Linked DNA regions of Homo sapiens: region 1 is linked to region 2. Evidence: fine-mapped expression QTL. A gene starts in region 2. The other region holds a variant in brackets. All regions are shown on one strand. Distances are from middle to middle.

The links.
Region 1: its variant is fine-mapped to the expression of KIAA1614 in tibial artery (GTEx, PIP above 0.99). The same link has a PIP of 0.9 or more in aorta, atrial appendage, cerebral cortex, fibroblasts, lung and prefrontal cortex.

The regions. Positions count from the first base shown.
Region 1 is chr1:180,934,938-180,937,831 of GRCh38, reverse strand. KIAA1614 reads right to left here. Exons shown (of 9, transcript NM_020950.2): 5 at 1,162-2,717. It overlaps LOC107985231 (a long non-coding RNA gene), which reads left to right. Exons shown (of 2, transcript XR_007066761.1): 2 at 1-1,074. Among named protein-coding and RNA genes, the nearest start is that of KIAA1614-AS1, 19 kb to the left of the region's middle. The variant G/A (reference allele first, on the strand shown) is at 1,274.
Region 2 is chr1:180,911,623-180,914,516 of GRCh38, reverse strand. KIAA1614 reads right to left here and starts at 1,620. Exons shown (of 9, transcript NM_020950.2): 1 at 1,224-1,620. The coding sequence starts at 1,273. It overlaps LINC02816 (long intergenic non-protein coding RNA 2816), which reads right to left. Exons shown (of 4, transcript NR_185877.1): 4 at 461-2,894. RefSeq lists a silencer at 1,525-1,824.

The sequences.
Region 1 (2,894 bases), 23 kb before region 2:
CAGAGAAGGAAATCGCCACTCAGCACAGGGTGGGAGGGACCCCAGGGGGAGGCGGTTGCCTCAAGGTTTGTGTAAGCAAGGGAGGAAGAGGGACCAAGTCTGTGTGTCCCTGTGCAGTGGAGGGGACTTTGCATCCACATCCTCAATAAGGTCTGTCATCTCTCTGCCCTCTCTCCCTCCACTCTGTTGCCAAGCCCTGGGTCCCTCTTGAGCCATCCCAGCCCCAAGACTGTCAGAGCCGTGGTCACATTAGAGCAAAAATGTGTGGAGTGAGCCTGTTATCTCTGCCTAAAAGTGAGCGGCAGAGTTGGTCACCTGGGATCACAACACCAGGGATCAGAGCCTGAGCCTGCCAACCCCCAGGATTCTCCCACAATATAAGGACCCCTTCCAAAGGCAAAGTGGTGAGACCCACACCCTTCAGCAGCCTTGCCTGCTGAAACCTACTGGTCCACCAACAGGCCCAGGGGCCAGGGAGGGTCTGGTACCAGAAAGCACACCACCTAGGAGCCCTGTTCCCTTGGTCACAGGGTCCTCTGGACAGTGTGTCTGCCTGGCCACAGAATGCCTCAAGGGCAGGACTCCTGCTCAAGTATTCACATGTGCATTCCCCACAGTGCCTAGTATAGTGCCTGGCACATAACAGGTGCTCAGCCAATGCGGAAGGAATGAATGAGTGAATGAAATGAAATAATGATGCTGGAGGGGCAGGGCCTCAGCCATGTGATTAGTGGACATCTACTGTTCTAAACAAATAGTAAATCCTGGAGCTGTTGCCTCTTCCTGAGCTGTTGGGAGTACATCCCTTAAAGTCCAGGCCTCCAGCAGCCATGGAGCTTGGAGCTTGGAGCTTGGAACCTCAGGGTTCCCAACAGGAAGAGGACGTCTCCACCACCTTCCCCATGGTTCTGCCTCCCCCGGGAGGGAGTTGCTTAGTCTGCCTCCAGGCCGGCGGTCAATCCTGCATCCAGCCTCCACCAGCACCCCTGACACCTCAGAGCAGCTCCAAGGAGCTGCCGAGGTGGTATGTGACGCTGCCATCTGACTATTGAGATAAAAGGGAATGACTCTGAAGGCCTGTGTGTCATGGATTGGGTCTGGGCGTCTGCTGTAGAACCACACCAGGCCTGGGCTGGGCAGGAACCAGCGGCAGCCCCTTACCATCTCTGCTGTTCTCCAGGGGCGGCTCCGGTTCCCGGCTGCAGGGGCCCCTCTCCACCCTACCCTCGTGGACGGCTCCCCCGTAGGGCTCCTGCAGCCCCCGAGGTGCGCT[G/A]TTGTTGCAGTTGTTGGTGGACAGGGCCAGCAGTGGGTGCCTGACCTGAGGGCGGCTGGGCTGGGTCTGTGATGGGGGCAGCTCACAGGTCCTGAGAACCGCGCTTCTTGAAGGAGGCCGAGGGATACCCACAGGCTCTGTCTGGTCACCCAGCCTGAGCAGTCCAGCCAGGGCTGCCTTCCTGTGAGACACTGGCGAGGTGGTTTTCCTCGAAGGGGGAGGGGTTGGCGCCCAGCCTTCAGGACACAAGGAAGCTGTTGGCTGCCAGGCTTGGTGTGGGGCAGAAGGCTCTGCATGGCTCTGTTGCAGGGAGGAAGGAGAGACAATTTCCAGGGACTCGTGGCTTTCTGTAACCTGGGCCTGGCCTCCTGGCCCCGATGATTCAGGCGTCATGGGGGCGGTGGTGGCATAGGCTGTCCTGCATGGAGTCCGGGAATCCAAAGGGTGAGGCTGGTGACTTCCCAGCCCTGGTCCAGGCTGCCACTGGGGTCCCAGGGACACCCGCTTCAACTCCAGGTCAGGAGGCTTGGCATCTTCTCTCAAAAATAGAGTTCCTTCAGGCGTGTGTCCTCTGCCCTCTTTCACCTCATTTTCCACCTCCACATCATCAGCCCTAGGCAGGTGTTGCTGGGCCTGAAGGCCCCAAGGGAGCTCCGCCTCAGCCTTCTTGGACCACCTGTGGCCTCGAGGCCTGGAGCCCCGCAGTCGCAGTCGCGGGCTGCTGCCTTGGGTCCGCCCACACGCCCAGCCAGCCTGAGAGGTCCCCGCCTCCTCACTGTCGGTCCTGCAGTTGTCAGAGTTGTCTGTGCTGTCCAGGGCAGAGTCCACCTCCGCAGGGCACACGGTGTCTCCGATGTGTGTTTCCCGGATCCATTCCATGTGGAGCCGGGGCTCTGCAGGAAGGAGCCGGAGTGGGGAGCTCAGGCCACCCAGCACCCTCTCCATCCCACAGGCAGCCTGGAGCTCCTGGAGGGTCCTGGGGACGGGGGGCGCCTTCCCCTGGGCGGGGCGCGGGTCGTCGATGCAGCTGCCGCAGGCCTGGCACCTCCTCTCGCTGCCCGGTGCCGGCGGTGCCGGGTGTCCCCTGCGGTCCAGGCTGCCCACAAGCCTGTGGAATGTCCCCTGCCCCGCGTCCCGGAGCCGGGGAGCCCCGTTGATGTAGTCGGCGAGGTCGGGCTTGGAGCGCAGGGGGCCCTGGTCCGCGGCCTGCAACACGGTGCTCAGCACCTGGCGCTGGCGCTGCTGCAGCCGCTCCAGGTGACGGAACTCGGCTTCGCGGGCGGACTCATCCTCAAAGCGCACGTGCGACGGCGAGGGGCCCCGCCTCGGCCTGTGCCCACCGCTGGACTCTCCGCTGGAGGAATCGCTCGTGTGCCCGTTCTGGAGGCTGTCTCTGCAGGCAGGGGTCGTCCTGGGGTCCCGGGCTGGGCTTCTGTGGCCATCTCTGATGAAGAGACAGGAGGAGAGAGGTCAAGGGCAGAAACCTGGGGAGGTATGGACACGCATCGGCCCTACCCTCTCCACCCTGGGCTACAGTCTCCCACCGTGCTCTGTGGCAACCGCAACCCACAAGGTTACTCCAGAGAGGATTTCTGGGGGCGTCTCGGCAAACCAGAGTAGC
Region 2 (2,894 bases):
CAGATGGAGAAACTGAGGCACAGATTACAATACACAGGTGCTAAGAGGAGGCCCAGTTTGGAAACCAAAGCTTCTCATTCCAAGCCCAGGCCTTTTCCAAAACATGTAGTGATCACTTAACCCTACTCCCCTTATTCTGTAAATGATAATGTTCCATCCCCAGAGGCTAGGTGGCTTGTCAGCGCTGCACAGATCCTTAGCAGCATGGCTGATGTTTATCCCTTCACAAGGAATGAAGGTGAGCAGGGGTTTGACTCAGGGTGTTGCATGCATATCTACATGCCACAGCGTTTTAATATTGATTCTACCTTCTGAGAAAAATACAACTTTAATATCACACATCTAGATGTCCCCCCCCCCTTGAAGTAAACTTTGTGCATAAAAATCCTTATGTGTATACACTACAAATTAGGAGTTATCCACTTCGTAACACGGACCAAGTATTCACCATAAAATTCTCTTAAATGGCAAGTCTCTCTGTAGTCGTTTATTACAATTCAATTTATACACAAGCTTTCAGGAATGCACATATTTTATAAAGCAAAATACACATATAATGCGAAATGTCACACCAGTTTTAAGCCAGTAAAGTTTAAGGATTATCTTTAGGAGGACAGAAATAATTTGTTCTATGAGTTAATCTAGAATGCAGCAAGTTTCTCTTTGCATCTCCTTCTTCTCCTCTAAAGTCCAATCCAGAAAACAGGGGATTAGAATGTAATATGAGCAATTTCTGTTAAGTTAAAATAACTTTTTGTTTTTGGGGAGGCTGAAGCCAGAGGAGGCCGGGCTTGAGCCCGGGAGGTCGAGGTTGCAGTGAGCCATGATCGCACCACTGCACTCCAGCCTGGGCGACAGAGCGAGACCCTGGCTCCAAAAAATTAAAGTAAGAATTGTTGATGGGTAAACTCTGGAACAGCACGCCAGAGACCTTAAAGAATGAGACCCTCCCACTGGAGTCCCCTGGGCACGGGCTTTCGGGAAGATCGGTCAGCTCGGAGCTGCCTGGTTCTATGGCCCAAGCACTGTGATGTATTTCCCCTAACTCAGAGGGGCCAAACGAAGATGGACGTGAAGGGCGGGCCTCCCCACGACCCTTCCAGCTCCGAGCCCGTGGGAGGCCCGCTTCCCAGTGGCCGGGGCGACCTGGGCTCCCCGCTCCTCCGCCCCGCCGGTCCGCCACCCCCGCCCGGCCGGCCCGGCGCTGCCTCCTCTATACTCACTGGGGGCTGCCGCCCGCGGGTTTGGCCGCCGCCGCCTCTGTCCCCTCCATCCCTCGGAGAGGCCAGGCCCTCTCCAGCCCCTTCTCCCTCCCAGGCCAGCTGCTGGGTTCGGGGAGGGACTTCCAGCCCCGAATCCGGGGCCGGAGGGAGTGCGGCCCGCAGGCCTCGCCCCTCGGGGCGCGGCCGACTGGGGGTCCGGGACGGCGCCGAGGCCGGGCCAGCTCCCGGCTCTGCTGGCAGCCCCCGGGCCCCGGGTGGGTCTGGCCGGCGCAGCGCCCCACGGGCCGCACTCCCTCCCGGCGAGAGGACGGGAAGCGGGGTCGGGCAGGGAGGGCGCTGGCAGGGAAGGAAGTGGCATCAGCTGTCCGTTCACGGCTTTGCCGTGGAGGGGAAGAGCGGCCAAGCCCGCGCCTTCCCGGCCCGCGCTGGGCAGAGGGAGCCGAGCGCGGAGAGGTGGGGCCGCGGGAGGGGCTGGAGGAGCCGGGCCTCGGCCTCCCACCCCGCCCGGAGCCCCGCGGGGCCGCCTCTCCTGAGCCGCGGCCCAGGGAGCGAGTGTCCCCGGCCGTCAGAGGCGCGGGATGGAAGTCCAGGGCGGCCCCGAGCTTGGGGACGACGGGGCGGCCGCCAGCCTCGCAGGGCGGTGGCCCCTTCCCCGCGGGAAAGCGGGCGCAAGAGCGGAGGCGCGCGGGGCGCACGGAGGCCGGGGAGCGCGGGCAGGAGCTGGGGGCGCACCACGTTCTCGGCGGGCTCCGCGCGCCGCTGGTAACCCTACACCCAGGGCTCGCCTTTCGGGGTGGAAGCTGAGGAATGCCTTTTGTGTGGACAAGTTTTCCAGAGGAGCCGGCCGCCCTCTCTGTGGGGCCGTCCATCGCTCCGTAGAGCCGTTTCCTCCGAGGTCAAGGTCGTTGGTTCCCGCTCTCCAGAGGCGTGAGGGAAACCCGGAGGGAACGCGCTCCGCGCATCCCGTCTGCCGCGGTGCCGGAATTGCCCGCCGCCGCCTTGGGTGGGGACCGGTTCTCAGGGTCCTGGGGGCTCTCGAGCAGATCACTTTCCCCAGCGCGGGACGGGGGTCGCAACCAGGGGCATTCCCTGCAGCCGCGGCCCAAACCGACGGAGCTTGCTTTCTCCTTCCACCCAGAGGGGGTGACCGAGCCTCACCTATTTCCAAGCCTATTTTTTCACAAAGACGGGAAGCAATAAAAGTGGCCTCAGGAGATTCCGGAAATCTCTACAAAGAGAAAGTGCCCGTTCATCTTTCCTTCAGCCGACTGGCTTCACTGTGAAGCATGGGGTAGTTGTGCACCTCCAGATGACAGGACAGACACAGCAACAGTAAGGGCCGCGCAATATGTACCGGGGCAGGGGAGGAGGGGAAGGAAGTTTTCTAGAGGGGCTGCCTCTTGAGTCAGGAGGGGGTTACTCTGCACAAGGTGGGGGAAGGGGCGTCTGGCAGGGCAACAGGAGAGCGGAGCCTGGGGAGCTGTGAGTGGACTGGCGTCTTGGCAATCTAGGAGCTTGAGAGATTATCCAGTGCAAACCCTCTGTGTCACAGTACAGGCCCAAGGTTACGTCAGAGGCTTCGAACCAGAGCGACTCCATCTTGTGTGAGGGCGAGGAAAATGAGGCTGGGACTTGCTGGGCCACATTCCCAGTGAGTTAGCTATACCCAGC